2 separate regions of the Homo sapiens genome follow, and region 1 is linked to region 2. Evidence: fine-mapped expression QTL. A gene starts in region 2. The other region holds a variant in brackets. All regions are shown on one strand. Distances are between the middles of the regions.

Evidence for each region. PIP is the estimated chance that this variant, and not a neighbour inherited with it, causes the effect.
Region 1: its variant is the best candidate, but not a certain one, in a credible set for the expression of FBXL20 in whole blood (INTERVAL, PIP 0.57).

The regions. Positions count from the first base shown.
Region 1 is chr17:39,313,184-39,318,183 of GRCh38, forward strand. All of the region lies in intron 2 of FBXL20 (F-box and leucine rich repeat protein 20), which reads right to left. Among named protein-coding and RNA genes, the nearest start is that of MIR548BC, 18 kb to the left of the region's middle. RefSeq lists a silencer at 2,780-2,980. The variant T/TAC (reference allele first, on the strand shown) is at 3,111.
Region 2 is chr17:39,398,518-39,404,000 of GRCh38, forward strand. FBXL20 (F-box and leucine rich repeat protein 20) reads right to left here and starts at 3,109. Exons shown (of 15, transcript NM_032875.3): 1 at 2,844-3,109. The coding sequence starts at 2,885. RefSeq lists silencers at 2,362-2,654, 2,719-3,148, 3,179-3,378, 3,409-3,488, 3,739-4,128 and 1 more.

The DNA.
Region 1 (5,000 bases), 86 kb before region 2:
TGGGATTACAGGTGTGAGCCACAGTGCCCGGCCATCTTTTTGTTTTTTTCTTAATTTGTATTTTTTCTGAGATGGAGTCTCACTCTATTGCCCAGGCTGGGGTGCAATGGCGCAATCTCGGATCACTGCAACCTCCACCTCGCTAGTTCAAGTGATTCTCCTGCCTCAGCCTCCCAAGTAGCTGGAATTACAGGCGCCTGCCACCACGCCAGCTAATTTTTGTATTTTTAGTAGAGACAGCGTTTCGCCATGTTGGCCAGGCTGGTCTCAAACTACTCACCTCGAGTGATCCGCCCGCCTCGGCCTCCCAAAGTGCTGGGATTACAGGTGTGAGCCACCTTGCCCAGCCGAGATAATTATCTTTAGAAACCAAAATAAAAGAATTGGTGGGGTAGGCTGCCAGGGTTTTAGCTACTACAGCAATTATTTTTTTCCCTCATAACAAACATTTATTTATTTTTACTTTTTTGAGACGGAGTTTTGCTCTTGTTGCCCAGGCTGGAGTGCAATGGCACAATCTCGGCTCACAGCAACCTCTACCTCCTGGGTTCAAGCGATTCTCCTGCCTCAGCTTCCCGAGTAGCTGGGATTACAGGCATGCGCCACCATACCCAGCTAATTTTGTATTTTAAGTAGAGATGCGGTTTCTCCATGTTGGTCAGGCTGGTCTCCAACTCCCGACCTCAAGTGATCTGCCCACCTTGGCCTCTCAAAGTGCTGGGATTACAGGCATGAACCACAGTGCCCGGCCCAAAATTTATCTTTTAAAATACACACTTTAAAGTGCATAATTCGGTGATTTTTTTTAGTATATTCACAGTGTTGTGCAACCATCACCACTATGTAATTCCAGAACATTTCAACAATCTCAAAAGATTCCCTGTACCCATTAGCAGTCACTCTCTATCCCTTCCTCACCCAAACTCCTGGCAACCACTAATCAACATTATTTCTCTATAGATTTGCCTATTCCGCACATTTCATATAAATGGAATAATACTGTAATGAAGACTTTTGTGTTGGCTTTCACTTAGCACATTTTAAAGAATATATCCATGTTGTTGCACGTATTCATACTTCATTCCTTTTTATGGCGGAATAATATCCTACTGTATCCATTCTCCAGTTAATGGACAATTGGGTTATTTTAACTTTTTGGCTATTATGCTTTTTGTTTTTTCAGAGACGAGTCTCACTCTGTCACCCAGGCTGTCACCTGGCTGTAGTGGCGCCATCCTGGTTCACTGCAACCTCCTCCTCCCAGATTCGATTCTCCTGCCTCAGCCTCCTGAGTAGCTGAGATTACAGGCACAAGGAACCACATCCAGCCTTGTGCCTGTACAAATTTTGTATATATAGTAGAGACAGAGTTTCACCATGTTAGCCAGGCTGATCTGGAACTCCCAACCTCTAGTGATCCACCTGCCTCGGCCTCCCAAAGTGCTGGGATTACAGGTGTGAGCCATCACAACTGGCCAGTTATGTGGTATTTCTATATTTAGAGATTTTAGAAACTGCCAAGCTGTGTTCCACAGTGGCTGTACCAGTGTACACTGTAGTGTACATTCTCACGAGCAGTTTGTGAGGGTTTTAATTTCTCCATATCCTTTTCTTTTTTTTTTTTTTTTTTGAAATGGAGTCTCACTCTGTGTTGCCCAGGCTGGAGTGCAGTGGCACGATCTCAGCTCACTGCAACCTCTACCTCCCTGGTTCAAACGATTCTCCTGCCTCAGCCTCCCAAGTAGCTGGGATTACAGGTGTACACTACCACACCCGGCTAATTTGTGTATTTTAGTAGAGACGGGGTTTCACCATGTTGGCCAGGCTGGTCTCAATCTCCTGACCTCAAGTGATCTGCCCACCTCAACCTCCCAAAGTACTGGGATTACAGGGTTGGGCTACTGTGCCCAGCTTAATTTTTGTATTTGCACTAGAGACAGGGTTTCGCCTTGTTGGCCAGGCTGGTCTCGAATTCCTGACCTCAGGTGATCCGCCTGCCTCGGCCTCCACATCCTTGACAACACTTTTTGATTACAGACATCCTAGGGAGTGCGAATTGGTACCCCATTGTTGTTATGATTGGCATTTCCCTGATGGCTAATGATGTTGAGCATCTTTTCACGTGCTTATTGAAAGCAGTACGCTTTTAGTAAGGTTTTCACAAACTACCTCAGGAGGGAAGATTATTAATGGGCAAAGTTTAAATAATTTATATATATATATATATATAGTACATGTCTTTAAAACATATATAGGTACACGTTTTCTTCCTCTTCCTTTCCTTTGTTGAAAGAGTCAGTTCTAAAGCCATTAGGAGGGGCATAGAAAGGTAGGTATCAATGCCAGGTTAGAGGTTGGGTGCAGAGGCTTGAACAATACGTCGGAGTCCAAGCAGAGTGAGGAGAGGACCCTTGAGGAGGGTGACCTAGCAGGAGATACTGGGATACAAGCAGGGTGAATGGGCAGCCTTGGGTAGAGTGTCAAAGTAAGGTGAGAAGGGCATCCACACAGAGGATAAACCTAGTGCGGGCTTTAGAACCCAAGCAGGACTTTGTCCGTGCAACAGGAGGAAGGTGGCATGGCATGAAGTGCCCAAACCCAATGAAGTGAAGAGGGGATCTTTGAGAGAGAGTGAGAGAGAGAGACAGAGAGAGAGAGAGAGAGAGAGAGAGAGAGAGAGAGAGAGAGCAACTGTAGAGCGAAATTGGTTAAAATCAGGGGAACTGAGTAAATAATAAAATACATTAACCATAATAAAGATGGGCAAGGTGGCTCATGCCTGTAATCCCAGCTTTTGGAAAGGCCAAGGTGGATCACTTGAACCTTAGAGTTCAAGGTTACAGGGAGCTGTGATCATGCCATTGCAGTCTAGCCCGGTTAACAGAGCAAGATCCTATCTCTAAAAACAAAAAAACATGAACCACAACAGAAGTTAGGTTTCTGTTACAAAGGGAGATGTGAATCTGGAAAGGGAGAAAACTAGACTAAATTATGCAGTGTTGGATTGGAATTGGAAATATCAGTGTATTAATAGAAACATAGTTATCAATATATACAGATATAAACATACATGTAAATTGTGTACATATATACACGTGTTCATCTACATA[T/TAC]ACACACACACACACACACACATTTTTTTCTTTCCCCCCGAGCTCTGTCTACTAAGAGGGCCTGGAGCAATAACCCCTCAATGGCAATGGTATTTAACTCCCAGATACTGGCTTCTAAACATTTCTTTCTAGTAGAAGGAATCAGGGCTCCTTGGAGAAATAGGGCAGAGAAAATGTACGATGAGCCTGGAACACCTTGTGATAGAAAGCAAGTGAGTGCTCAAAGAATGATGGGGACACGTCAAAAAGTCATGGTAACCAGCTTGAAGGGGCTTCCACTGGCCAAATCTGGGACAACCTGAATATGAAAACAAACGAGAGCAATGAATTACAATTTACTAAATAAAAAAGGGAAGCCATAAGTTCAGACTGATGTAAATTAATAAACTGAAGTTTAAGAAGAATGGGACGGCTGGGCACGGTGGCTCACGCCTGTAATCCAAGCACTTTGGGAGGCCAAGGCGGGGGTGGGCCACCTGAGGTCAGGAGTTCGAGACCAGCCTGGCCAACATGGCGAAAGCCCGTCTCTACTGAAAATACTAAAAATGAGCCGGGCATGGTGCTGGGCGCCTGTAATCCCAGCTACGCAGGAGGCTGAGGAATGAGAAGCACTTGAACCTGGGAGGCGGAGGTTGCAGTGAGCGGAGATTGCGCCACTGTGCTCCAGCCTGGGAGACAGAGTGAGACTCCATCTCATTTAAAAGAAAATGAAGACAAGAATAATTAACCAAACATAAGATGTTCTTGGATAGCATAATTTAATATCTTAGAAGATACCAATACTTCCCAATGTAATTTAATTTCCTGATTAAATGTCCAATATATGAATTGAATCCAAACAGATTTTTGCTTAACGAAAAAAATTGATTCTGAAGTTGATATGGATGAAAAATGTGTGAAAATCACCAAGAACTTATTAAAAAAGACAAAGAAGAGCTGCTTTTCTTTCCCCCCATGAGACAGAGTCTCACTCCATCACCCAGGGTGGAGTGCAGTGGTGCTATCTTGGCTCACTGCAACCTCCGCTTCCGGGGTTCAACTGATTCTCCTGCCTCAGCCTCCTGAGTAGCTGGGATTACAGGCATGTGCCACCATGCCTGGCTAATTTTTATATTTTTAGTAGAGATGGGGTTTCACCATGTTGGCCAGGCTGGTCTTGAACTTCTTACCACGTGATCCGACCGTCTCTGCCTCCCAAAGTGCTGGGATTACAGGCGTGATCCACCGTGTCCGACCAAGGTGCTTATTAAAATGTACAAAAATTACTGAATTCCAAATAATATGGTGATTATAAAGAAGGAAAAAAAATGATGGAACAAAACAGGGCATCCAGAAAGGCCCCAGATACATGTAGGAATTTAATACATAGGAGAGTTTGACTTTGTTTTTTTTTTTGTTTTTTTTTTTGTTTTTTTTTTTTTTTTTTGAGACGGAGTCTCACTCTGTCACCCAGGCTGGAGTGCAGTGGCACGATCTCGGCTCACTGCAAGCTCCTCCTCCCAGGTTCACGCCATTCTTCTGCCTCAGCCTCCCCAGCAGCTGGGACTACAGGTGCACGCCACCACGCCCAGCTATTTTTTTGTATTTTTAGTAGAGACGGAGTTTCACCGTGTTAGCCGGGATGGTCTCGATCTCCTGACCTAGTGATCCGCCCTCCTCGCCTCCCAAAGTGCTGGGATTACAGGCGTGAGCCACCGCTCGCGGCCTCACTTTCAAATTAGTAGGAAAATAATGAATTATTTAGTAAATGGTGTTAGGAAACCTCATATTTGAAGAATGTAAAATCCCTGCCCTCAAGCCATATAAAAAAAAATTCCTATGATAGCTTTATTGGCAAAATGTTGACAATTATTGAAGTGGGGTAACAGGAGTTTCATTATACCATGTTGT
Region 2 (5,483 bases):
ACTGTATACATTTAATGCCATGGTGACACAGCAAGAAAAACATGAATTTTCACATCTCTTGATCTCTTAAATAGAGATTCTTTATTCAGTAGTCATCTACTTTGGCTATTCCACAGGATGCTACACATCTGGCTAACAGGTACTCACCCTCGTTGTTTTTTGTTTTTTTTTTGGAGACGGAATCTCTCGCTCTGTCGCCCAGGCTGGAGTAAAATGGCACAATCTCGGCTCAATACAACCTCCGCCTCCTGGGTTCAAGTGATTCTCCTGCCTCAGCCTCCTGAGTAGCTGGAATTACAGGTGCCCACTACCACGCCCGGCTAATTTTTGTATTTTTAGTAGAGACCGGGTTTCACCAGGTTGGTCAGGCTGGTCTTGAACTCCTGACCTCGTGATCCACCCACCTCGGCCTCCCAAAGTGCTGGGATTACAGGCATGAGCCACCTCGCCCGGCCCCTTGGTTTTAAATTAAAAAAATTTTTTTTCTATAGCTCTAACCCAGAGTGGGAGATTTAAGGTGTGTGGCCTCCAGTTACAACATATAAAAGCATACCTACAAAAGGATTTCAATGAATCAACTATCTGAAAATCATAGAGCTTCAGTTATCTTCTCCAAGAAAAATAAACCTTACGTAGCCACAATTTGAAATTAGCTATTATGTGATATAAAGATTTCATGCATCCACAAAAATTCTCAATGAGATCTGCTATCTGCTTACAGTTGTAAAATTATCAGTTCTTTAAGAAGCAGACTGTAATCTTGAGGATTTAAAATATCATTTGATGTAAATGTTTAGATCTGCTTTATTTACGTATCTTTTATTGAAAGTAAATATTTAAAATATTTTCAACAAATAAGCAATAAATTTATTTACTACTTCCTAAGAAGCCAATTACTAATTGTCTCAGTCCTTGTAAATTAGGTCAATAAAGAGGTAAATGGTTTTAAGAAGTACTCAATGAACTTCATTAACACATATCATTTCTAGCCATTCTCATCTGTATTCCGGCATGGAACACTTCACATCATATTAAGTGAATAGCTTTTAGTTTATAAACAAACACTTATTTAATCATGAAACCGTCCAAGAAGGACTCCCCACCTTATTCTTTTTTTTACCTTCTCAGATCATATTTAGAAAGATTTCGTTGCCAGCTACATCAGCTACAAGTTAAAAAGAAACCTCTTAATACAGCAACAAATTTCCTTATTACTTTATTATAGTATGCCACCCCTACAGAGATTGTAAATTAAAGTATAAGATAATTATAAAAATACAAAATAGCAATGTAATTTTACACCACATACAAGAGAATACTTTCCAAAAATTATTCAATCTAAAATGAACAGCAAACTGATAAAGAGCTAATTCCACAGGCAAAAGACTGTCCCCGACTCAAATCTTCAGTATCTGGAACTGCCTTTCAAGATTCCTGTTAACTGCTGAACGTCTATTCAGCAATTTTAGTGACATTCTGGGTTTTTACGGTACTACTGAATACGAAACCATCATAAATTAACTTTATTGGGGCTCTGTACATTAGGGCCATCCAATGTCCTATTAAACACCAAATAATATATTCCATAACATTTTCTTCTAGTGATCAAGTTAAATACTAAAACTCTAAGAAGGCCAATTCTTTGATTTTCTCCACTCCTGAAGTGCAACAGTAACACTGAAGCTCTGAACTTAAACTGCACCCAAAACACTTCCTATCTTGATCTTCGTGGATCAATTCAAATTATTTCCCAGTTCGCATAATAAGAAATCAAAGAATAGATTAAACTGACAACCCTTAAAAGTTTTCACACCCTGAACCTAGTTGTCGAGTTTCTTAAACTTTTGTCTCGCCGTCTTACAATTTCATCTCTCAAATGGAGATGAAGAAAAACACCGAGTGAGATTGTCCACTGAGCTGTGAGTGATCCCAGGTCAGCCTGGTTCTCTGCCAGAAAAGACCAGGTGACATTTACTCTTCCTGTAGAAGTTTCTTTCTCTTGACCCTCAAGGAACCTTCCAGTATATTGTTATACTACTGTAATTCATCAGTAGTTACAATATTTCACTTCCCAAAGGAATCTCTTCCTTGCAAGATGACTACTCTCTAAAGACGCTTTCAAGACCGTCCACTCCTCAATTCCAGGACAGTAAACCTCCCTCGCTAGAGGAGAAAAAGTTCCTGAAAGACAGACCGGAATGGATTTGCTGAACTTTCGTCCCAATCTCAAAGCATGTAGACATCCAAGGGTTCCCAAGGAACAATGAGCTACAGAAGTACAGACTAAACGGGAAAGCAGAGGAAGTATCAGAACAATACCCAAACCAAACACAGCACCGAAAACCCGTGGTAGCCTCTATCATCCCAAACTACCGTCCCCACTTCCCTAGTTTCACCAAGGTCTCAAACTCGGAGAAATGGTACCCATCCCCTAATTTCCTCCCTCAACAGACAACAAACGCGTCATGAAGGTAGCAGCGAGAAAAGCAGCAGGCTCTGGTGGACCGGAGCCGTGATGGCTGGGTGGAAGGAGGCAAGCCAAGGGTTGTGTAAAGAATGGAAAGCTGAGCGATCCTGGAGGAGGGTGGAATTAGGGCGCCCGAGCTAATCCCCCGCGGGGGCCCGCTGGTGGGAAGAGACGGGGGGCGAACCGGCGAGGGGACTGGGGGCACCGGGCTGCGCTGGGCTTCTGGGTCGCAAGAAAGGGGAGCGGAGTCTGGCAGCCCCGCCAGTGGGTGGGTGACGGCGCCTGCCAGGGAGGAGGCTCCGTGCGGAGCGGACGTTTTGGGATTAGAGCGCGCGACCCGCCCTCCTCACGCCGCCCGAGCCCCCCAAGCTCACACCTCAAACCTGCTCTTGGTCACTCCGTTCACGTCCCTCCTCATGGGGCCGGCGGGTGCGGCCCGGGCCGGGCGCTGCGGCGAGCGGAGTGCACAGACCGGGGGCCCAGGACAGGCCCGGGAGTTCCGGGACGGGGACTGGGCGCCGGAGGGGTGACGCCGGGACCGTGGGACGGGAACAAGAGACCTCTCGGCTCCGGCTAGGCCTCCACCACCTCCCGCGGCGCCGGCGGCCGCAACGACTGCTCGTCGCTAGCTCGGCTCTCTCCTCAGCCTCAACTTCAACCCAAAACAAAAACACTCCCCACCTGCCAGCAACGCCGCTGCTCATTGGACAGAGCCGCCCGGGCCTCGGAGCGCCCGGGAGGGGGAGGGGCGGGAGGGGAGGAGCGCGGCGGCGGCGGCGCGAGACCACCCCTCCCCCACACGGGGCCGGCCCTGACGGCGCTCCCGGGAGCAGCCGGTGCGCGGCGGCGGCACGACCCCCTGCGCCTCCGAGGCAGACGAGCCCATCGGGAGAAGGCGAGGCAGGGAAGTGCCTGTGCGTGTGGAAAAGGGGGTCTGTGGGGCGGATGCGAGTGCGCGCGTGCTCGCGGACCAGCGAGGGAGAGTAGAGCAGTACCGCACTCTGCGCGGGGGCCCCTCTTCTGCCCCGTGTCCCCCTCTCCTCCCTCCGCGGGCAAACAGGCACGCACCTGCCTGCACAGAACCTCAGCCTCTGCCCGCGCCCGTCGCCCCTCGTCACTTGTTCCCCAGGATCCTGTAAGGCACCCGCATCCTTCCCGGCCACCCAGCTCCCTTCCCCTGTCACTCACTGTCGCCTTGAACCCAAAGTGCAGCAGGCGGTCCCTGCTCGGAGCCATTTTCCTCCTCTTCTGGATGTGTCTAGATTGGGGCAGTGCGGCTGCCGCCGCGCCTCCGCGGTTGCCGCCGCCGCCGCCTCCCCCGCCTCCCCCGCCCCAGTGCATTACATTACGGGGTGCTGCAGGGAGGCCTGGGGGGCCGGGGCCGGACGCTTGTCTCCCTGTGCATGGCTCGGGAGGGCGAGGGTGGTTGCGCTGAGCAACAGGCCAAGTGCCCGCCCTGGTCCGGGGATGGCTGCGGAGCTGCACCTGAGGCCGGGGGTCGGGGGTGCAGGGCTGGAGCCGGGCAACCCTTCCTTTGGCCGGGGTCGGGGCGCGCGTCCGTGGGGGTGGGGCGGGCGAGACCGAAGAGCCTTTGGTTTTCCTTGCTCGGCCGCCGCCGGCGCCCAATGGGCTGCAGCGCCTGCCTGTCCGCCAATCAGGGCGCTGTTTGGTGAGAGCTTCGGCCTGACGTCACTTTGGCGGGAGAAACAAGCGTGTGTGAGCGAGTAGGCGGGGGCGTTTTCCCGATGGAAACACTTCATCAGACTCCCGGGCTCCTTGTATAGAAGCTGATCTGTGTCATCATATTATATTATGTTTTAACAACTCTGGCCTTCAAGGTCTCAGAATTTATGACCGAATTTCCACGAAGGAATAACACAGGATTTTGTAGTTTTGTTGCCCCTTCTATGAGCAACAAACTACAAAATTATGTCCTAAGAGTGAACTATTAGAAACTGTATAATAAATTCCAGCACACCTGGCAGGAGCAGCAGCACTGCTAATTGTATGCTTCCAAAGCAGTTATGAGTTGGTCTTCCTCACACCCCTTTTAATTAGTGGTTTTAGCGACTGACTTGTTATGCGTCTAAGAAATTAACAAGAGCAACAAGTGCGGCAGATCTTTAAGAACAGGTATATTTTAGCTGGAGGACATATTACCCAACTCTTAAAGCACTGTACAAACTTTTTCTTTTTTTTTTTTTTTTTTTTTTTGAGACAGAGGTTCAACTCTGTCGCTTAGGCTGGAGTGCAGTGGCACGATCTCGGTTTACTGCAACCTCTGCCTCCCGGGTTCAAGCCTCCCAAGTAGCTGGGATTACAGGCGCGCCGCGCCGCACCTGGCTAAGTAGAGACGAGGTTTCGCCATGTTGGCCAGGCTGGTCAGGAACACCTGACTACAAGTGATCCGCCCGCCTCGGCCTCCCAGAGTGCTGGGATCTTTTTTCTTTTGTAGAGACGGGGTCTCCCTATGTTGCCCAGACTAGTCTGCAATTCCTGGGCCCAAGTGATCCTCCAGCCTCCTCCCAGTGCTGAGATTACAGGCCTCATGTGAGCCACCACGACCAGCGCGCCACCCCCCGGCTTTTTTTAATCCTAGAGGGGGCTTCCTAAAACCAGGGACCTAGCTTCAGAAACTCATTCTCAGGCCCACAAACCCAGGTCTGTCTTCTCCTCCTGTCCCAGGTACTTTTAATGTTTTTGCTTGACTTCAGCCAGTGGAATAAAAAAGCCTTTTCATTCTGTCTCATCTAAGAGCTGTTTTCTCCCAGCAAAAACTGATGCATTTGGTGAGTAACAATGGCAAAGGGATGGCCGGGCGCGGTGGCTCACGCCTGTAATCCCAGCACTTTGGGAGGCCAAGGCGGGCGGATCATAAGGTCAGGAGATTGAGACCATCCTGGCCAACATGGTGAAACCCCGTCTCTGCTAAAAATACAAAAATTAGCTGGGCGTGGTGGTGGGCGCCTCTAATCCCAGCTACTCGGGAGGCTGAGGCAGAATTGCTTGAACCCGG